Homo sapiens: one gene and its partners. The protein of the gene in region 1 purifies or fractionates together with the protein of each later gene. This does not show direct contact. Each region holds a gene or a part of one and is shown in the gene's direction. Other genes may lie near its edges.

Region 1 (7,017 bases):
GATGTGACCGCAGCGAGCGCGCAGCCTGAGTTTTGGTAGAATCGTGAGCCCTGAACAGAGTTTACTGCCCACTTGTGCTGGAGGAGAAGCTCCCGAACAACTAGAGAGATTGTGGTTCCCAAAGAGCAGCCTCCAGGCCTGATGCCTCCTCCATGACCGGTGTCTGTCCGTCCCTCCCTCCCTCCCTCCCTCCCAGGCCTTCTCTGACTACCAGATCCAGCAGATGACAGCCAACTTCGTGGATCAGTTTGGCTTCAATGATGAGGAGTTTGCCGACCAGGACGACAACATCAAGTGAGTCTACTTGGAGCGCACTCTGCACGAGGCGCGGCTCTCCCTGCTGCTGAGCTCCCGTGGAGGCAGCTCCCTGAGGTCTTGCCGGGAGTGCCGTCTGATGTCCCCGGGAGACAGCAGGTGTTCCCAGTTGTGTGAGGGTGCTGAGGCCCCCGATGAGCACCGGGGGAGGAGCACTGAGGCCCCAGATGAGCAGTGGGCCTGGAGGAACGCTGAAGCCATCCCCCTTGCTCTTGCAGTGCCCCGTTTGACAGGATCGCAGAGATCAACTTCAACATCGACGCTGACGAGGACAGTGTGAGCAAGCCGGGCTGTGTGGGGTGCCGCCACCCTTTTCCCAGGCAGCTCAGGCCATGCCCATGGCTCGGTCTGTCATGGGCCTGTGCGGTGGGGCTGGGAGAGGCCCCTCTGTGGAGCTCGGAACAGTCGCTTTCCTTGCCCCTCCCCGTCCTCCCCTCCAGCCCGGGGCTCCCACATCCCGAACTAAGCCCCTCTGGGAGCTCTATGGGGAGAGCGGCTCCTGTCTCCCCCAGACCCTCTGGAAACTCACCTTGGCGTTTTACTCTGCAGCCCAGCGCAGCTCTGTTTGAGGCCTGCTGCAGTGACCGCATCCAGCCCTTTGATGATGATGAGGACGAGGACATCTGGGAGGACAGTGACACTCGCTGTGCTGCCCGGGTGATGGCCAGACCCAGGTGCGGGGCCTGCCCATCCCCACAAAGCCTCTGCCGAGGAGGTTCAGCCCCCAGAACACCTGTCAGACGCCCTGTGGTTCGTTAGCTGGCTTGCAGAGCAGCCACACCTGTCCTGCCAGCTCTGGGGCCCAATGCAGCGGGTGACCCTAAGGAGCCCAGAGCTGAGGCCTGGAGCGTCTCGTGCTCCTCTCTCGAGACGATCTGTGCTCACCCTCAGCCCCGAGCCTGGGGCCGCCACTGACCCTCCATGTTAGGCGTCCGTCCTGGGCCACCAGACATCTGACTCTGAATCTCCCCCAGGTTTGGAGCCCCCCATGCTTCAGAGAGTTGCTCAAAGAATGGCCCAGAGCGTGGAGGCCAGGATGGGAAGGCGAGCTTGGAAGCACACAGAGATGCACCTGGGGCAGGTGCCCCACCGGCCCCCGGGAAGAAGGAAGCGCCCCCTGTGGAGGGTGACTCAGAAGGTGGTGCTGGGCGCCAGGGGCTGGGAGTGTGGGTATCGGGGACAGGACATGGTACCCCGGCCTGGGTGTTGTGGAGGCTTCATTTGGAGCTGAGGCATTTGGGGCTCACTGTGGCCCGGAGCCTGAATCCCCAGCTATTTCCCAGCCGTCCTGAGTAGGGGTCTGTGCTGCGCTGTGCCCAGCGCAAGGTGGCCTCCTGCCCCTGCCTTGCAGTTGTGGTCACTCAGCCACGTTGCCAAGGCTGGTGGGTGGTGTCCACCTAGTCTCCATCGTCCGTCCAGCCCCCACACAGTCAGGCACAGGCCTGACGCCCTCCCCAGCACAGCAGCACAGGCCGGCCGCCACCTTCATGGCCGACATCTATGGCAGGAGCCAGTCCACCTCACAGGCCGCATGGCTGATGAGACCCCTCTCCTTACCCTGCCCTGGGGGCAGCACTGAGGCACTCAGGACTTTGGTGGCGGGGGCAGAGATCTCTGTTAGGAGGGGCTGAGCTCTTCGCTGACAGAGCAAGGGTGACACCCTGGGGAAGCAGGAACATCCCAGATAGGAGGAAGACACCCCATCCTCGAGGCCAGGAAGGGGCCAGTGGTGCTCGGTGAGCTGCCGGCTCTGTGGGTTGCGGTCCTGGGTAGGACAGGGCAGTGGCATCACCTCCACACTGTCAGTGTCAGTCCTGCTGGAGGCCTGGGGGCCCTCAGGCACCTGACTGAGCCCCAGGTCACACGCCCCATGGGTGTCGGCAGCTTGTCAGGACCCTCGAGCTGTCCCCTGTTGCTCCTTGAGGGGCTGACGGGCACTGCCTGGGCCTCCCTCCTGGAGCAGCCCCATCTTCCTGTCAACCTCTGAGGGGCTCCCGGGGCAGGGGCGCTGCCTCCCCTTTGCCTGCAGCACCCCAGGCCTGCCCACGCCTGACCACTGTGTCTCTCCCCCAGCAGGCGCCATGTGGACGGCAGTGTTTGATGAGCCAGCGAACTCAACGCCCACAGCCCCAGGAGTGGTGAGGGACGTGGGTTCCAGTGTGTGGGCAGCTGGCACCTCAGCTCCAGAGGAGAAAGGCTGGGCCAAGTTCACTGACTTCCAACCTTTCTGCTGGTAACAAATGCGCTGGCAGGAGGGGGCTGTGCCAGGAAGTGCCTGTCAGGGCCAGGAGGCACCTGTCCCCCAGGACTGATCCTGTCCTCGTCCTTGTATGCAGCTCCGAGTCAGGGCCCAGGTGCAGCTCTCCGGTGGACACAGAATGCAGCCATGCTGAGGGCAGCCGGAGCCAAGGCCCTGAGAAAGCCTGTGAGTAGGAGCAGTGCAGGCGGCACCCAGCCTTGCCCAGTTTAAGGCCTGAGGCCAGCTGGCCCCCCTCCTTGGGGGCAGTGGGAGGAGGTGGCCGGGGCCTCGCATGCTGCTACGTCTCTGGTGACATTGGGGTTTGATACAGCAATGGGACTGGAGCAGCCACGTGTAGATGGGGAGGCCCCCAGAGGGGAGGCAGCAAGGCCATTGGGCTGGCTCTGAGCCTGGTCTGAGTAGGTGGCACAGCTCAGGTCTGCACCCTGGATTCCGGACAGCAGCACTGGGACCCCAGCATTGAGATGTGTGTGGGTGGGTTGTTGGCAGGAAGCTGTTCTGTGGCCTGATCAGAGCCCCTGGCCCCCAGCCCCCTAGTCAGGCTCAGAAGCTCCCCCAGATAAGGCTGAGAGCTCCAGGTGAGTGACAGCTGGCTCCCAACACTGGTGTCCCCGGTTTTGGGGTCCTTTGGGCTTAAAGGAGCTGTGGCAGGACCACACGAGGCGGAGTGGGCCCCTCCCTGAGCCTCTGCGTCCTCCTGTGAGACCAGGGCATGTGTCCCTGTATCATGGGGGAGGCAACAGGGTTGTTTGTGTGGAGACCCCATGGCAGGTGCGTGAGCCTGTCTGCCTCATCATGCGGCTCCCACACAGGCACATGTGTGCAGGCAACAGGCTGCATGTGAGAGGGCCACATGTATGGGGACCCTATGGCTGGAGTGGCCGCACCCTGTGACCCCTCCTGCCTCACTGGACAGCACAGGCCTCCTACTTTGCAGTCAGCCCGGCTTCTCCATGTGCCTGGAACGTGTGTGTCACCAGGAAGGCCCCCCTGCTGGCCTCTGACAGTAGCTCCTCTGGGGGCTCCCACAGCGAGGATGGCGACCAGAAGGCAGCGAGTGCCATGGATGCGGTGAGCAGGGGTCCCGGCCGGGAGGCCCCCCCGCTGCCCACAGTGGCCAGGACAGAGGAGGCTGTCGGCAGGTGTGTGGGGCGTGGCGGGGGCGGGCCTGCCGGGTGCATAGGGCGTGGCTTCCAGGCTCTGTCCCCAGGTCTCAGCTCCCCTGAGAGGAGGTGAGGCCAGGCCAGGGTCTTCTCCACACTGCCTCCCCCATGGCCCCGTGACCCTTCAGAGGCTGGCTGAGGCGGCGGTGGTGCCCACGCGTTTACGTGGAGGCCAGATGGGAGAAGTGTGGGGCCTTCTTTCGTGGACAGAACATCGTGTTCTCTGTTGTGAGTGGTTAAGACAAGAAGACAGGGCCTGGATGTCCCAGACAGTCCCCCAGGGACTTGGGGGAGCAGCCCCTACCCCAGATCCCAGTTGGAGAGAACAGCCCAGCTCTTGGGGCTCTGGGCCTGGCTGAGCCGCCTGGGATCTGGGTACCCTGGTGGTCGGGGAGGGGCACAGACTTTTAAGTCTGGCAGGCGAGCGGGCATCTGTGGGGCTCACGCAGACCTCGCCTGCTGCTCCCCTTCCACGGGAGGCCTATGATTCCGAGACGCCTCAGAAGCAGGATAGTAGGATGGGGGGCGGCGGCCTCAGGACTGCACTGGGGGCATCCAAATCCTGACTGAGAGTTGGAGGCAGCTTGCAGGCTGGCAGAGGCCCAGGCTCCCTTGAGCCCCCAAGAGCCATCCCTGGGGAGAGAGTGGAGAGGGAGGCTCTCCCTGTGAGGAGGTTGGAGGCTGGCCGGCCCCTCCAGCAAGCTGAACCCCATCCGTCCCCAGGGCCACAGGAAGGTCCCTGGGATCCTTCAGTAAACAGATACCTCTCTGGCCTCTGGGGTCAGGGCGTGGGTTAGCAGGAGGGCAGGACCGCTGGGGTAGATGCCAGGGCCAGGTAAACCTGAGGGGGAGGGTAGGACTGGGCTTGACGTGGGGAGGAGGGCGCACCCAGCAACGGCACAGCTGTGCAAAGACCCTGAGGCCTGAGCTCCCAGTAGGTCCAGGCAACAGTGGGGAAGTCCTCGGGCTGGATTCCTCTAGGAGGGGACAAGGTGCCTTTCACATCTGGTGGTGCATCCCAGTCACTCCTGGCTCCATGGTTGTGAAGGGCCTGCCTGGAGCGGGGTGAGGGTGTCCCCCAGCCTCACCGCCCAATGCAGCTCAGCCTGCATGCGTCCCACCTGTACTACCCTTCCCCCACAGGTGGGGCAGGCCTGACACCTCAGAGGGTCCTGCTCACTGACCCCCGGCAATCCTGGAGAGTCTGTGTGGTACTGGGGCTCCGGGCATCTCCCCCAGCCAAGCTGCAAGCTCAGCACCAGGCTGGCTCTCCCCGCCCTGTTGACCAGCAGGCCCCGTCTGTGCTCACAGCTCCTCCCCTTGTTTGGCCACCCTGTCTTCAGGGCATCTGCAGCAAGTGGGGGGCACAGCACGGGAAACGGGGCCAAGGCCGTTTCCCGATGCCGGCAGTCACTGGGAAGCCCAGGCCAGAGCCCCTCGGGTTGAAAGTCATACAGAGTTCCTGTGTGGGCTTCATTCCTTCTTAAAGTTTAGTCACTGAAATTTTTGTTTGTTTGTTTGAGACAGAGTCTTGCTCTGTTGCCCAGGCTGGAGTGCAGTGGCGCAATCTTGGCTCCCTGCAACCTCCGCCTCCCGGGTTCACGCCATTCTCCTGCCTCAGTCTCCCAAGTAGCTGGGACTACAGGCATCCGCCACCACCAGGCCCGGCTAATTTTTTGTATTTTTAGTAGAGACGGGGTTTCACTGTGTTAGCCAGTATGGTCTCGATCTCCTGACCTCATGATCCGCCTGCCTCGGCCTCCCAAAGTGCTGGGATTACAGGTGTGAGCCACCGCGCCTGGCCTAGTCACTGAAATTCTTAACAGTCTTTACCCTGCCAGGCACAGTGGCTCACGCCTGTAATCCCAGCACTTTGGGAGGCCGAGGTGGGTGGATCACCTGAGGTCGGGAGTTCGAGACCAGCCTGGCCAACATGGCGAAAACCCGTCTCTACTAAAAATACAAAAATTAGCCAGGCGTGGTGGCAGGCGCCTGTAGTCCCAGCTACTTGGGAGGCTGAGGCAGGAGAATCGCTTGAACCAGTGAGCCGAGATCACGCCACTGCACTCCGGCCTGCGCATGAGAGAGACTGACTGTCGGCAAAAACAAAACCAAAACAAACCTTTACCCACTTCTCCTAAACAACCCCTAAAAAACTGCTCTGAAAAGCAGGGAATATCATTGTGCAAAGTAAGTTGTTTTTTTCCACGGGGCTGTCTGCGTAAAACTTGCCACTTAGAGCCCTGCCTGCACCGTCGTCACGGCCCAGCCTGCAGGTGAGCTTCCTCGCGCCCCCGCCTGACCTGAGTGCCCCTCCCTCAGTCAGACACAGTGTCGTCGCCCTGCAGGAAGCCAGGGGGCCCGTCTGCTGCTCGTGGCCAGGCTGGGCCTTGGGGTGCCCGACCCCCTCCAGAGCAAGCCCCTTAGATGCCCGGCAGGGTCCTCTCTACCCTCCCATCCCCTGGGAGGTTTCCCCAGACTGTGTCCAGTGTGAGGCTGAAGTTGAGATCATAGCACAGGAGGCTCTGGGGTCCTTGAAGAATGAGGCGCTTGATGATGAGCAGGATCTGAGTGCTGCCTGGAGGAGGTTTGAGGTCATCAATGGACAGGCAGCTTGTCCCAGTACTTGGAACTTGGGGCAGCAGAGCTGCCTAGCTGGGCACAACCTGGGCCACCCCACAAAGGGCAGGAGTGAGAGGGGCCAAAGATGGTGCTCCCAGGCCGCCTGGACCTTTTTGTCCAGCTGGTCCTTGGGCATGAGGCGGGGTGGCACTGAGGGTGGGGGTGCCCGTAACCGGAGTCCATGTTTGCCACACAGGGTCGGGTGTGCTGACAGCCGGCTGTTAAGCCCTGCCTGCCCCGCGCCAAAGGAAGTGACTGCTGCCCCAGCCGTGGCTGTGCCCCCCGAGGCTACTGTGGCCATCACCACAGCACTGAGCAAGGCTGGCCCCGCCATACCCACCCCAGCAGTCTCTTCTGCACTGGCCGTGGCGGTCCCCCTAGGGCCCATCATGGCAGTCACAGCAGCCCCAGCCATGGTGGCCACCCTGGGGACAGTGACAAAGGACGGGTGAGCAGGTTGAGTGTGGGGGTAGGGGGTGTGGACAGGGCCCGCAGCCCGCACGGTTCCAACCCCACCCCATTCCTGCAGGAAGACAGATGCCCCGCCAGAAGGAGCTGCCTTAAATGGCCCAGTGTGATGCTGCTGCCGCCCGGCCACGGCCCACCCTGGTCAGGCTGCCTCCTTAATCGAGAAAACTACCTGGTGATGCAATCTTT
Region 2 (7,978 bases), on another chromosome or scaffold:
GCACCTGTAATCCCAGCACTTTGGGAGGCCAAGCAGGTGGATCACCTGAGGTTGGGAGTTCAAGACCAGCCTGACCAACAAGGAGAGACCTCATCTCTACTAAAAATACAAAATTAGCCGGGCGTGGTGGTGCATGCCTGTAATCCCAGCTACTCGGGAGGCTGAGGTAGGAGAATCACTTGAACCCCAGAGGTAGAGGTTGCGGTGAGCCTAGATGGCGCCATTGCACTCCAGCCTGGGCAACAAGAGCAAAACTCCGTCTCAAAAAAAAAGTTTGAGCCCATCTTCTCTGGATTTCAAGTAAGCAAGAGCCATTGGGTGATCATCAAAACCCATTTTTAATAAGCTGTTCTACCTCTATAGCAGTTAGTACTACCAATTCAAAATAATTATTGACCAAATGAATATGTTTTATTATTTATCTATTTAATTTTTGAGACGGGGGTCTCACTCTGTCACCCAGATTGGAGTGCATTGGTGTAATCTCGGCTCACTGCAACCTCTGCCTTCCAGGTTCAAGTGATATTCCCACCTCAGCCTCCCAAATAGCTGCGACCACAGGGGCACACTACCACATTTTTGGTAGAGACAGGGTTTCATCTTCTTGCCCAGGTTGGTCTCAAACTCCTGAACTCAAGCAATATGTCCACGTTGGCCTTCCAAAGTGCTGGGATTACAGGCATGAGCCACCATGCCTGGACTATAAATGTGTTTTGTCAACTTTTCTTTTTTTTTTTAATTTTTTTTTTTTTTAATTTTGAGACAGAGTTTCACTCTTGTTGCCCATGCCGGAGTGCAATGGCGCGATCTCGGCTCACTGCAACCTCAGCCTCCTAGGTTCAAGCGATTCTCCTACCTCAGCCTCCCAAGTAGTTGGGATTACAGGCATGCACCACCACACCCGGCTAATTTTGTATTTTTAGTAGAGACGGGGTTTCTCCATGTTGATCAGGCTGGTCTTGAACTCCCAACCTCAGGTGATCCACCTGCTTGGCCTCCCAAAGTGCTGGGATTACAGGCATGAGCCACCGTGCCCGGCCGCCACCTTTCCGTTTATCCTCTTCCGTGATACCCCAAGTTGGGTGATGATCTCACTTATTTTCTTTCCTAACATCTCTTCTTTTCGCCTCTGCACTCCAGAGAGAGTCTGTTAAAATGTCCACATCCCCCAGTCCTCCTTTCCACTACTGTAGTACAGTGCCTCCTTCCAGTTCACAAATGGTAATCTGGAGCCACCTTCAGATGGGCACATGACCTTAAAGGACAGATTTACTCTTTCGAATTCCACTGTCTTGTCCAGCCCCACCCGCCTCTGACTAAGGGCTTATACATGTGAGACAGCTGCTTTGAATGAGGAGTAAGGATCTGGTTGGTTAAAAGACAGAAATTAACAGGGATACATAACTGAACTGTGACCTCATTATCACTCTGCCTTAACCAAGTTGACTGCTACAGAATCCCCAAGGTCCAACAGGCCTACCAAGCCAATTTGCTTACTGTCCCCTACTAATTGGTTTAACTAATTACTGCCATTTAAACTTTCCTAGTTTAGTCCCTATACTTGAAACAACCGATTTCTTCCCATGTCTCCACCATTCTACATCAATAACTTCCTTCAAGTACTGACTCAAAACACACCTCCTCCAGGAAGACCCTCTTGACTGAACCCTTCCTTCAACATTACTCTGAACACATAATGCCATGTAATCTAGCATGTATCCTATATTCTGTAGTTGTTTCACATGTATATGTATGTTCATCTACTAAGTTATAAGCTCCTCATAAAGAGACACCATTACTTCTAATTTTTGACCTCCCGACCAATTAGTACAGGGCTGTACATCGGGTGAGTCCTCACATTTAGTCAGAAGAAGGAAAACTGAGGCTTAAAAATAGGCAGCCATCTGTCTAGAGTTACCCAAATATGAATGCTTGTAGTTCAATCCAGAAGGACTGTCCATATAAGAAGGTTTTATCACCACTTCTGGCCTCCTCCTCCCATACCCTGTGTGTCTCCCTGAGCCCTGAAAGTATCAGTGTTCCCTACATCAAATCCCTTTTTTTCCTACTGGGAAATCCTCTTTTGATGCTCTAAATAATATTAAAAATAACTCTTCTAGCCCGTCCTCCTCCCTCCAATTGCCCAGAGAACCAGGCTGGCAACCTCTCTTGTTCACCTCCATCCCCTAGCCAGAACCGGGCACGTGACCCCAGCTGAACCCCTGACTCCAATTCCTCAGGTTACCTAGAGTTATTTTGGGCAATGGATACCATGTATGCCCCTCCTCCTTATCCTCTGGGCCATATCCTAGTTTAGCCCTTCCTGGAAGGCCCATCATACCCAATAGCCAAGTCCCAACACCCATATCCATTTGATCCTTTGCTACCTTTGGTTTCTGCTGCTGCTTCATCATCATCATCAGTCATCAAATATTAAATGCCTGTTTCTCTATACTGATATTCTGGAGCTTAAAAAAAACTATACCTGGCTGGGCACGGTGGCTCACGCCTGTAATCCCAGCACTTTGGGAGGCCGAGGCGGGCGGATCACGAGGTCAGGAGATTGAAACCTCCTGGCTAACATGGTGAAACCCCATCTCTACTCAAAGTTAGCCGGGCATGGTGGCAGCACCTGTAGTCCCAGCTACTGGGGAGGCTGAGGCAGGAGAATGGCATGAACCCCAGAGGCGGAGCTTGCAGTGAGCCGAGATCCCGCCACAGCACTCCAGCCTGGGCGGCGACAGAGCGACACTGGTCTCCAAAAAAAAAGGTGAAATGAGAAACAAAGGTGTACAATTTAACCAGATTGTGGCAGTATAAACTAAGTATGTAAGTGTTAAGGAGAACTAACAAAAGGAAAAGAGCCTATTAGCCAGAGGAGACTTCCTGGAAGAGGTAAGTTTAAATTTCTTCATAATTTTTGTGTGTGCATGGAATCACGGAGTGATTGCTCCTAAGCAATATTTTAACTTTTATTTTCAATATGGTAAAAATTTAAAAAATTCCAAAAGGTATATAGTGATAGGTAAATTTCTCTCTCATTCCTTATTTCCTGTACCCCAGTTTTTCTTTCTGGGAAAAAAGGACTGTTACTAGTGTCTTAAGTATCTTTCTAGCAGGAAAGCAAGGGAAGGCTTTTTTTTTTTTTTTTTTTTTTTGACATGGAGTCTGGCTCTGTCACCCAGGCTGGAGAGCAGTGGCTCCATCTCGGCTCACTGCAACCTCCGCCTCCTTGGTTCAAGTGATTCTCCTGCCTCAGCCTCTCCAGTAGCTGGGATTACAGGCGTGCACCACCACACCAGGCTACTTTTTTATATTTTTGGTAGAGATGGGGTTTCACCATGTTGGGAATGGGAAGGCTTTTTTTTTTTTTTTTTTTTTTTTTTTTTGAGACGGAGTCTCGCTCTGTCGCCCAGGCTGGAGTGCAGTGGCGCAATCTCGGCTCACTGCAAGCTCCACCTCCCGGGTTCACGCCATTCTCCTGCCTCAGCCTCCCAAGCAGCTGGGACTACAGGCGCCCGCCACCCTGCCCGGCTGATTTTTGTATTTTAGTAGAGACGGGGTTTCGCTGTGTTAGCCAGGATGGTCTCGATCTCCTGACCTCGTGATCCACCCGCCTCGGACTCCCAAAGTGCTGGGATTACAGGCGTGAGCCACCGCGCCCGGCCGGGAAGGCTTTTTTGAAATGTATTTTCGCCGGGTGCGGTGGCTCACGCCGGTAATCCCAGCTCTTTGGGATGCCGTGGCAGGTGGATCACCTGAGGTCAGGAGTTCGAGACCAGCCTGACCAACATGGTGAAACCCCCGTCTCTACTAAAATAAAAAATTAGCCGGGCAGGGTGGCGGGCGCCTGTAGTCTCAGCTACTTGGTAGTCTGAGACAGGATAATCACTGAACCCGGGAGGCGGAGGTTGCAGTGAGCCGAGATCGTGCCACTGCACTCCAGCCTGGGGGACGAGAGTGAAACTCCATCTCAAAAAATAAAATAAAATGTATTTTTATTTTTTAATTTTTTTCCTCTCCCCTCAAGGGAGGATTTTTATATATAAAGCCTTGACAGGACGCCAGCATGCTGCACTTCGTCCATTTCGTGTTCTCTTCAATGTGTATTGAGTTGTGAAACTCTGAACAGGACCCTGGATCACCTTTTATAAATTGTATCAATTTTTCAATCTCCACTTTTCGTCTTCCTCCTTTTTCCGTTTCTGGGTTGAGATGACCTCCATTCATTTCTTCTCTAATTGACGGCTCTCTGGCCTCTCCATTGGAGGAGGGGAAGCGCCACAGGCTGTTCTGGGGAGAAATTGTTGAGTGTTTTCCACTTTAACCTTGCAATGGAATCAGTAAGGAGTTGGAAAATGCCCCTTCTGTTGGTCTTGGCGGCCTTTTCCAGCTGCCAGTTGTCATGGCCTCTTTGTGGGTGTTTTCTGCAGTAGAATCCTCCTTGGGGTTTCTCTGCAGTTTGAGCACTTTTGCTATTTCTTCTCTACCGAACTCACGCCTCCGCCAGTGGAGATACACGCTTTCCCTCCCTCTGGGGCTATTGCCATACATAATTCCCAGTTCTCCACCCGCCAGTTCCTCCTAGTCTGTGGGGGATTTCGGGGTGTGGAATCGCTGACGGGAGGAGTTAGCTCGGGCGGGAGCATTGTGGGCTGGGTAAGATCTGGCCAGCCGTTCGGTCCTCAGTTTGGGAAGCACCGCGGGACTAAGGCCCAGGTTTCCGCTAGGGTCTTGTGGGGAACCCCTTGGGCCGCCAGACTGGAGCGGAGAGCACAGCGCGGCCAGCTGCGTGAGCCGGGGAGCCGGCGCGCGAGTTCGGGGGTGCAGGGGCTGCTGGGGCCGCCAGGGTGGGGCGGAGGGCGCTGCGGCCGGGGTCCGTTTGCGCGGGGAGCGCCGGGACCAGGACGGCCGCCAGGGAGCGCTGCGGCCTCCAACTCGCCCGCCCCCCGGTAGGCGGGGCCGCGCTCTCCCTGCAGCCGCCACCGCAGCCGCCGCCTGGGCCGCTCCGTGTCCCCGGTGGAGCCGCCGCCGCCGCCGCCGGGAGCTCGATGCGGACGGAGCCCGGGCCGAGCCATGGGGATCCTCAGCATCACGGACCAGGTCAGCCCTCCTGCCCTTTCCCGCTTCCTCCTTCCAGGGCTCGGCGCTGCCGTCACGCGAGCCCGGGGATGTGCGGCCTAGGCTGGGCCTGAGCCCGGGGCTCCCGCAGCTCCCGCCCCGCCCCATGCCGCGCTCCCCTCAACCGAGCCGGTGTCCTTGGGGACCTGGCAACCGGCGGAGGCACCGCGGGAGCTCGCTCCAGCCAGAATCCCTAGAGTGGAGCCCCTCCACGGACGCCCCCCACTCAAACCTAGGTGCTCCCCCACCCCCACCCCCACACCGGTTCCGCTCCGGCTCCAGCCCGCTCTCAGAATGCCGGTTCTCTCTGCAGCCGCCCCTGGTCCAGGCCATCTTTAGCCGAGATGTGGAGGAAGTGCGTTCCCTACTCTCGCAGAAGGAGAACATCAATGTGCTGGTGAGTTGGGAGCAGGGAGGATGGCGAGACCGGAATCCTGGCTCCCGTGTTCTGGACCCCTCCCCACCGGTGGGGCGGCTCCGTGTCTCCTCTGCTCAGATGAGGCCGCAGTTCTTTCCATCCTGGAGTGAAAGCCTACTCTGCATTTGGGGATGGAGAGCAGGTCAGGCTTGAAGCCCAGATCACTTGGGCTGGGAATGCCCAGGAACGTTGTTCTCTTCTCAACCTCCGGAGTCTGCAGCGCCCCCACCCCTCCTGGAAAAAGGAGCCGGCTTCTCAGCCCATTGGCCCTGACTCCACCCTCCCTAGGTGCTTGCCTTTGACTCCCAATACCGGGACTTAGGACGCTGCAGAAACTATGGGAAGAGGTTGTGGGGAAGGGCCTGGAGCTCTGAGACTTGGGCTGGGGTCCTTGATAGCCCCCTTACCCCGCGCCCATACTCCCTGCTCTTTTTTGCCTTCCCAGGACCAAGAGAGGCGAACTCCATTGCATGCTGCTGCCTACGTAGGCGATGTCCCCATCCTCCAGTTGCTACTGATGTCAGGTGAAAGTGGGGAGCTGGAAGGTGTGGCACATAGGGAGCGAAGGGAGGGGAGGAGTCTTTTTTGATATTCAAGGATTGCTCTCCCCGGCTTGGTCCAGGCGAGGCTCCAGCTCCATTCAGATTTCCTGGCCTGATTACTGGCTTCCTTCATACCTCCTCCCCACCTTCCATCAAAATAGGAAATTATATCCCCACAGGTGCTAATGTCAATGCTAAGGACACACTGTGGCTGACCCCTCTTCATCGTGCTGCTGCCTCCCGAAACGAGGTATGCACCCCCACCTTCTATTACCCTTTCAAAAAGGATAAGTTGCTTAAAGGTGGGGGTTAAGGGTTAAGGAGCCTCAGTCCTCAGCCCTACAAGCTGTTCTACCCCAGGTAGTGAGGAGATCAAATCTTGGCCCCTTCCTCCTACCCCTAGAACTGGCCAGTAAGGGGGTTGAGTGCTGCCAGCTGATGTGACTCAGGAAGAGCTTAACACTGGGCTGGCAGACTGCGGGGGCCCTGCTGCCAGGCCTGAGTGACTCATCCCTCCCTGGGGGGCCACCTTGAGTCTGATCCCCCTCTGGGCACTGAGATTTCTTTTCCTTGTGATGGAGGATGGGTATAGTAATCTGTTGCATCCTTGGCCCTCAAGCAGCTTGAAAGTTGACAGCACAGGGGCCAAACATATTTCATCAGTTGGGTCCTTTATCCTATTCCCATCAGCCCTGAAGACAGGGAAAGGGGGACCTCCTCCTCAGTTCATCACTTCCCTGGCTCCAGCCACCAGGGGGAGGGGCCGAGGCCAGTGGGAATGAGGTGGGTGGTGGTTAGGAGGGGCATTTTAGCTCGGGTTTTGCAAACGAACCAGTATCTGTTTGCTTACTGAGATACTGAAAATAATTTTGGTGCCTATGAGAAGGCTAAAGAGGGTGTTCAGGGCAAGATGTAGCAAGAGCATTTAGTTTTCCTAGAAGTAGTAGGGGGTTGGGATGTGTGGATCTCCACATGTGGATTTGTTTGGGAATGGATGTATGTGTGAGTGAAGATTTTCAGGGTCTAAGTTGGCGAGTCAGGTGGCTTGAAGAAGAGCAAAGGGTCCTTGTTTTAATCAGCAAGGTAAGGAAGAGCTTAAGTTCTAAGAAGATCCAGAAGATGGAAAGTAGGTATTCAGAGGCTAGGTATGTTGGAAAAATGAGAAGAGATTCTGTGCTGGGGAAGGGGCTGTAGATGCTATGCTGACCTATTCCTCCTTCCATTTCCTGTTGTTTTACCTCCTGCTCCCACTCTCTCTTTTGTCCCCTGCCCCTCAACAGAAGGTGCTGGGGCTGCTGCTGGCACATTCAGCAGATGTGAATGCCCGGGACAAGCTGTGGCAGACACCACTGCATGTGGCTGCTGCCAACCGGGCCACCAAGTGTGCTGAGGCTCTGGCACCCCTGTTGAGCAGCCTCAACGTGGCTGACAGGAGCGGGCGCAGTGCTCTGCACCATGCAGTGCATAGTGGGCATCTTGAGGTGAGGACTGTTCCCATCCAGGCCCAGCTGGGGCTTTCCCTTTTCTTACCTTCCTACTCACGTTTCCCTGCTTCTGGGCCCTCAAGCCTGAAGGAGAAGCAGCCCGGATGGTTATATAAACACTTAAGCTGAAGCACTAAATGAATGGTCAGACTAGATTAAAATTCTTAACTTGGACTTCAGGAGGTTGATAAAACCTTGGATTTTGCGTGGAAAATATTTGCATACACGCCTTTCTGAAGAGAGTCCATGTCTTTCAGCACATTTGCAAAGACTTACAAGAGTTTAAGAACCGGCCGGGCACGGCGGCTCACGCCTGTAATCCCAGCACTTTGGGAGGCGAAGGCGGGTGGATCATGAGATCAGGAGATCGAGATCATCCTGGCTAACATGGTGAAACCCTGTCTCTACTAAAA
Region 3 (6,842 bases), on another chromosome or scaffold:
AAAAAAAAAAGAAAAAGAAATAAATAAAATGGCCAGGTGTCAGGTGTGGTGGCTCACGCCTGTAATCCCAGCACTTTGGGAGGCCGAGGCGAGATCACGCCATTGCACTCCAGCCTGGGCAACAAGAGCTAAACTCTGTCTCAAAAAAAAAAAAAAAAAAAATTCCATATCCTAAATGTCAGAGTTCTAACTATAACACATCTAGAAGAGAATCTTTATGAGCTTAAGCTAGGCAAAAATTTATTAGATAACAACACCAAAAGCATGATCCACAAAATTAAAAAATGATAAATTGGACTTCCCCCAAATTTAAAGTTTTTGTGCTGCCTAAGACACCATGAAGAAAATGAAAAGACAATCCATATAGTGGGAGAAAATATTTGCAAACCATATATCGGTAAAGGGTTTGTGATCAAAATGTTTAAAGATGGTAGATTCAATACCTGTATTTACTCAACCTTCCTCCTGAAACTCCGGTAAGTAACAATAAACTCACAAAGGAAAACAGAATGAATGAGGAATGACAGCAACAGCTTGGAAGATGAAAAACAGATGGATAAATGTCTTTTATTTTCACAAGCAAAGAAAACTGAAACCTAACCCGGGACAGGCAGAAGCCCAGAAGCAATCCAGTTTGCACTACATAATTCCGAAAAGCTCAGGAATTAGGTTCAGAGGCAGCAGGTAACACTGAAAGTGGCATGCAGCTGAAAACACAGGAATTGGTTGAAAATCTGTTTAAATAGCAGTTCAAGTGGACTTGAACAGACATTTCACAAAAGAGAATACCAAAGTGGTCAATAGTCATCATAGAAATAAATGCAACTTGGACCCACAGTGAGACATCATAACACACTCATCAGAAAGGCTATTTTTTAAACTGACCACATCAAGTGGTGAGGATATTAAGCAACTAAAAGTCTCACACACTGCTGGTAGAAGTATACATTGATATAACAATTTTTTACAAATCTCTTTAGCATTATCCGTTAAAGTTGAGCATTACATACCTGTGATCCAGCAATTCTGCTCTGTTTATGTGCCCAACAAAAATACATATATTTGTGCATCAAAAGACACATATAAAATGTTCATAGCAGCATTATTCATAGTGGGTGTAAACTGAAGCAACCGAAATATTTATCAATAGGAGAATGAATAAATTGTAGAATATTTATACAATGGAATACTACTAGACAGGAATGAAAGACCTCAAACCGCAGCTACATGCAACAAGATGAATAAATACCATGTAAAAAGCCAAATGCAAGAGTTACACATGTGATTCCATTTATTAAAAACATCCAAAACAGGTAAAACGCATCTATGGTGATACAAATCAGAACAGTGGTTATCTTTGAGAGAAAATGATTTGAAGAAACAGAGAAAGTTTTGGGATATCGGTAATGTTCTACGTCTGGATCTGGGCGGTGGTTACTTTGGTGTGTTGATGTGTTCCATGAATAAGAATATATTGAGCTGTACACTTATTATTTGCACACTTTTCTGTATATAATTTTATTCTTCAATAAAAATTTTCTTTAAATAAAAAAGGCAGCTAGATTCTCTTTTTAACTCTGAGCAATCAGGCAGCTGTCACTACTCACCTTATAGATTTTCTTTTTCTTTATACAAAATAGAATTATTTGGGCAATAATATAAATAATTTTGTATATAAATAAATGCAAAATTAAATTTACCATGATCCTCTCTTTGTGGCATTTATCATTATTGATCCATGCCAGGCCTCTCTTTATATTTTTTGATCCCCTTTTTGAAATCTCCGATTCCATTTCTCTCCCTCATAGGTATCCACTCTTGCATATTTAATGAATGACTTTGTAATTTATCCTCCTTACCTCTATTCACACATACTTGTACCCATGAACAATATTCAGTATTGCAGTTTTTGTGAGTTTTTAAATATTAAAGACTTGGGCTAGACATCTATTCAACATTGTTTTTTATTTCTGAGTCAAGTAGATCATGTCTATTCCTACTAACAGCTGTAGAGTTTTACATGTATATACTATTTCTTTTTTTATTTTTCTCTGCTGTCTGCCATGTATATACTATTTTATTTATTCCCCTATTGATATTTAGATGCTTCCAACTCTTTGATAAATAACTATGTTGTGATGAACATCTACTTAACTGTCTCTTTGGGTGACTGTGAGAATTTTTCTGCCTACATTTATTTTCATAACTATTCTCAAATTGCTCTCCAGGATGGCAGTATATTCCCACCAGTTATGTAAGCAAAAAAAGTTTTTATTTTTTTTATTTATTTTTTTTTTTTTTTTGAGACGGAGTCTCGCTCTGTCGCCCAGGCTGGAGTGCAGTGGCGCAATCTCGGCTCACTGCAGGCTCCGCCCCCTGGGGTTCACGCCATTCTCCTGCCTCAGCCTCCCGAGTAGCTGGGACTACAGGCGCCCGCCACCTCGCCCGGCTAATTTTTTGTATTTTTAGTAGAGACGGGGTTTCACCGTGTTAGCCAGGATGGTCTCGATCTCCTGACCTCGTGATCCGCCCGCCTCGGCCTCCCAAAGTGCTGGGATTACAGGCGTGAGCCACCGCGCCCGGCCAAGTTTTTATTTTCTCACATCCTAGGCAGTATCTGAGATTGTCTAACCTAAATGTTTTTGCCAATATGATGGGTAAAAAGCAATATCTCATTGTTGTTTTCATTTGTATTTATCTGATTACTGCTAAAGTTGACATCTCCTTGTATGCTAACAAGCCATTTAAGTGTCCCCATCTGTGAATTGCCTATTAATTTTTGTCAGTTTTAAAAATTGGATTTCTTTTCTTTAACCGATTAACAATTCTTCTATATGGAAACTACTATAACCCAACATTTTAAAGATATTATCCCTCTTTTATTCCTAATAATTTCCCGGTTTTAAGTTTTAATCGTGAATCCATCTGGAGCTTATTTTTGGATGCAGTGTTTGCCACGGATCTGCTTTTATTGTTTTTCCATATAACGGGCCCATCTAATAAATATTATTTTATTTCCCTATCTGGTCCTTAAGGCTACCGTATAATGTAGGGCCCTGCTGGGGGGCTCCAGCATGTTCCATTACTCACGTATCCGTTCTCACGCAAGTGTCACACTGTTTTAATGACTACTGCTTTGTTATGTCCCTAAATATATGGCAGGACAAATCTCTCCTCTTTGAGAATTGTCTTAGTTATACAGGGCTTTTATTCTATATGAAATATAGAATCATTGTACAATTCTCCAAAAGTTCTGTAGGATTCTGACGCCAATATATTAGGCATATATATTGATTTGGGTAGAAGTGACACCTTGACCATATTAAATATTCCCAGCCAGGAAAATGGCATGTCTCCCGTTTACCTGGGCCTTCTTTTAAGCTCTTTAAGAGAATTTTAAACATTTTCTCCACAAAGGCCAAGGGCATTTTTGCGAGTGTAATCTCTGGATACTTTATATTTTCACTAATATTGTAAATATCTTGTATTGCATAGACAATGCTCATATAAAGGACCATTACTTATTTTTGTATTTGATTTTGAATACGATGACCTTGCTGGACTCTTAACACATTTCTTTGTGTTCAGTACGTTGATTCCCTTGGGTCTTCCATTTAAATGGTCGTATCCTCTGCTCTTTGAGGAGCTAACACTCGGGCCGGGCAGCCTCCGGATGCATCTGTTCCTGCCTGGCAGCGCGCCCCGGGCCCCAACCTTCTCCACCCGCGCTCCCGCCAGGTGCAGCCGCCCGGCCCCGGCCAATGGCAGCGCCGACTAGCCGGGCCAAGCTTGGAGGGACCAATCCCGCCGCTGCCCCCTCCCCTCGCCGCCAACTCGGGAACGGGAACAGGAGGCCGTTGGAAAACTTTGGGCAAGATGGCCCGGCGGTGATTTCCGCGGCGGTCTCTCCTGCGCCCGGCCTCTGCGGCGCAGGCCCAGCCCCCGAGCCTCGCACGTTCGGCAGCCCCGGCCTGGCCCCGGCCCCTCCTGCCCATGGCGGTGGCCGAGCTGTACACGCAGGTAGGAGGGTCCGCTGGGCTCCTGGGAGCGCTGTGGGGGAGCCGGCCCTGCTAACGCTGACTCGACCTGGCGCCCGGGCCACACCTGCCACACCTGCGCACCTGACACGGCAGGGCGGGCGGGCGCGCGCTGGGGGCCGCGGAGGCGCCGCGGAGGGGCCACGGGGACCGGGGACACGAGCGAGCGTCGCCCCTCCAGGGCCCCGGCGTGCTCCGTCCCTGCCCGCGGGTAAGCCCCCTCCTGGCTCCGCTGCGCCTGGGTGCCCTGTGGGTGGGAAGACCCTGTGGGAGGGGCCGCCCCCTCCGCCGCTCCGGCCTCGGGGCCTAGAATCCCCAGTGCCCAGGGGTCGCGCGTGCGTCCCCATCTCCCGGGACTGGAGCGCCTCGGTCCCTTCCTACCACACCACGGGTGGAATCAGAGTTGCCCATGCGGACGTAGGAAGCTGAGACGCCGGCCAGTCTCCTGGCCCCTCCTGGGACCCCCTTGAACGAGCTGGCATAGAAGCTTATGGCCGCAGTGTTCGGGCTGCTTTCTAGAATTCTGTGTCTTCAAAGTGCGTGAACGTGCATGTAGGCTCATCAGAAGCTGAAGCAGCCTGGGTCACAGGCTTGAGGGCACTGCAGTGGCACCAAGCGCTTGGGGAGCCCAGGGGCCACGAGGTGCAGTCGTAGGCTCTTTGCCTAACATCTGTACTGTTAGCAACAGTACAAACACCACAGTTTCTAAAGCGCCTTTCATATACCCTGACTCTGGGAAACACTAGAGCATTCCTCAGAAGCTTCCTTTCTGCTGGCTGGGGCTCCACCTCTTACCTCGGAAGGGCAGCGTTCCCACATATGTCCCAAACCCTCTGAGATGGGCTTGGGTAATTATTTGGATAAAGAGTGTGACAGTGTTAGCACTTTTGAAAAAAAAAATCCATTTGAATAGCCATAAAGCCTGATCCTCCTATACACCAGTTGGGGAAATCTAGAGACCTCAGTATTCAGACGAGTGGAACTAGAATCCATCCATTTCCCCGGACACATGCTCTAGCTTTCTACTTTAAAAGATGCTTTTGCTGTAGATAGAAAAGATAGTTATTTAAAAAATCATGTTTCAATGGTTTAAGCAAACGTTTTTCTTCTACTTTGATTACTTAGTAACAGTCCGGACACAAAGCAACCGAACTGTAGTTTCTCCTCTATTGCATCTCCATTAACTGGAGTTCTAAATGGACAGTGTTTGAATTGCCCTAGTTTTGTTCTAGAATATTTTCACCAGTGAGACTGTGAGCCCTCAGACAGCCAACAGCGCTTCTTCAGCCTTCAGTTTACTGGAAGTGAAAGAAAAGTCTTGGACTAGTCTTCGACGATACTTTGGAGGACAGAGAAAAATGCTGCTGCTGAACCTATTTGAGGTGACAGTATTTCCAGAAGCAGAAACACACAGGTGCAAGCACCCCTATTTTTAGGTGCCTCAAACCTCAGATATTTATTAAATGTCTAGTAAGTACCAGGCACAATGTAAGAAAACTGATAGGAAGGAGTTTAAAGGTACAAGCTTGGAGGGAATGAGAATCTGAGAATCCCAGAGACTGACGCAGCCTGATGGCCATTCCCACTGACCTTGTGTCCACGTAGACACCTGTGTTCCTAGGCTGCCACCTCCCTTCCTGGTGGGCAGTTAGCCCCCATTTTGTCTGTTCTGGAGGTGTGAAGGGGAGGGCCATGGCAGCCAGAGAGCGAGGTCAGGGCTTTATTCCCCAGTGTGGGTTTTGAGTGGGGGCTGGCAGAATCAAGGGTGGTGTGTTAGGACTGTTAGATTTGTTATGTATGCCAGCAGCGCCCTTGGGCTGTGGAGGAGAGAGGCCGGGGTCACGTAGCTGAATTCTCAGGTCATTCCAGCTGTTGGAAAAGAATTAGAGCTGCAGTGTTGGCCATGGAGGGTGGAGGCAGGTGAGGCTGAGAGGCTGGACTGGGGAGTGGGGTGGGGGTTGAAGGGACCAGCCAAGGATGACATTTGAGGTTAGAGTCTGTATGAGAGACAGCAGGGTGGTGCCCTTGAGTGAATTAAGGATGTGGCATGAGGAGGAAATATTTCTTAAGAAAGTCATCAGGCAAGTTCTGTATTTGCAGGGGTTGAAGGGGTGAGGGGGCTTCCAAGGGAAGGTGCCTTGCAGGGTGGGAGGTGTCAGAGGGAGGGGATGGGCCCTGCCGAGGGTCTTCTGCCCAGAGGTGGTCACTGAAGCCAACAAGACACTGAGGGTCTCACCAAGGTGGGAGAAGGCAGACAGAGAAGAGGGTGAGGGACAGGCCAGCGGGGAATGCATCTGTGCAAGGAGTGAGAGGAAGCAGAAGGGCTGAGATGGAGCCATCCAGAGGAGGAGCTAACAGGGGAGCTGGAAGCCACCCTGTGGGAACAGGGAAGAGGGAACTCCAGGAGAAGTCTTGGTGAGGGGAGCAATCGCTGCCAGGTGAGGTGTAAAATCATCCATCTCTTTTGAAAAGCTACAGGTGCCATGCCTTAGAAATGTTCAGAGCAGCAGTTCCCCTATTTGAAATCTCTCTTAAGAAGAGCCGGTCTGGCATTCTCTGCTCTACCACCTCTAGAGGCTCCCATTGCTTTCAGACTCACTGACCAGCCACGAGGTCCTGCCTCTCTCCCTGCCTTCCTGCTCTTACCTGGCTCATGCTCTGCCAGACTCCTTGCCATTCCCTCAATGCCTTGCTTGCACGTTGCCACTGCGTGCCTTGGCACACGAACTCCACCTGTCTGAGCCTCTGTCTGTCACCTTTGCTCATGGCACCTGCACCTTCCACCTTCAATTTGAGCAGGACCTC

Evidence for each region. Proteins that work in one complex are often made in the same cells at the same time.
Region 2: the proteins of PPP6R2 (region 1) and ANKRD52 purify together in Homo sapiens (affinity purification with mass spectrometry; 4 studies listed by BioGRID and IntAct, with this or other methods). This does not show direct contact.
Region 3: the proteins of PPP6R2 (region 1) and MYO5C purify together in Homo sapiens (affinity purification with mass spectrometry; 2 studies listed by BioGRID and IntAct, with this or other methods). This does not show direct contact.

The regions. Positions count from the first base shown.
Region 1 is NC_000022.11:50,437,310-50,444,326, forward strand, and holds part of PPP6R2 (serine/threonine-protein phosphatase 6 regulatory subunit 2), read left to right. Parts: intron 1-196; coding exon 197-294; intron 295-533; coding exon 534-591; intron 592-864; coding exon 865-989; intron 990-1,289; coding exon 1,290-1,453; intron 1,454-2,388; coding exon of another isoform or gene 2,389-2,391; coding exon 2,392-2,548; intron 2,549-2,651; coding exon 2,652-2,740; intron 2,741-3,491; coding exon of another isoform or gene 3,492-3,512; coding exon 3,513-3,717; intron 3,718-6,556; coding exon 6,557-6,808; coding exon of another isoform or gene 6,809-6,812; exon of another isoform or gene 6,813-6,816; intron 6,817-6,889; coding exon 6,890-6,938; 3' UTR 6,939-7,017. UniProt on the Homo sapiens protein: Regulatory subunit of protein phosphatase 6 (PP6). May function as a scaffolding PP6 subunit. Involved in the PP6-mediated dephosphorylation of NFKBIE opposing its degradation in response to TNF-alpha.
Region 2 is NC_000012.12:56,255,368-56,263,345, reverse strand, and holds the start of ANKRD52 (serine/threonine-protein phosphatase 6 regulatory ankyrin repeat subunit C), read left to right. Parts: upstream 1-4,961; 5' UTR 4,962-5,076; coding exon 5,077-5,103; intron 5,104-5,434; coding exon 5,435-5,518; exon of another isoform or gene 5,519-5,876; coding exon of another isoform or gene 5,877-5,984; coding exon 5,985-6,063; intron 6,064-6,260; coding exon 6,261-6,331; intron 6,332-7,361; coding exon 7,362-7,562; intron 7,563-7,978. UniProt on the Homo sapiens protein: Putative regulatory subunit of protein phosphatase 6 (PP6) that may be involved in the recognition of phosphoprotein substrates.
Region 3 is NC_000015.10:52,292,788-52,299,629, reverse strand, and holds the start of MYO5C (unconventional myosin-Vc), read left to right. Parts: upstream 1-3,825; 5' UTR 3,826-3,993; coding exon 3,994-4,020; intron 4,021-4,418; exon of another isoform or gene 4,419-4,746; intron 4,747-6,842. UniProt on the Homo sapiens protein: May be involved in transferrin trafficking. Likely to power actin-based membrane trafficking in many physiologically crucial tissues.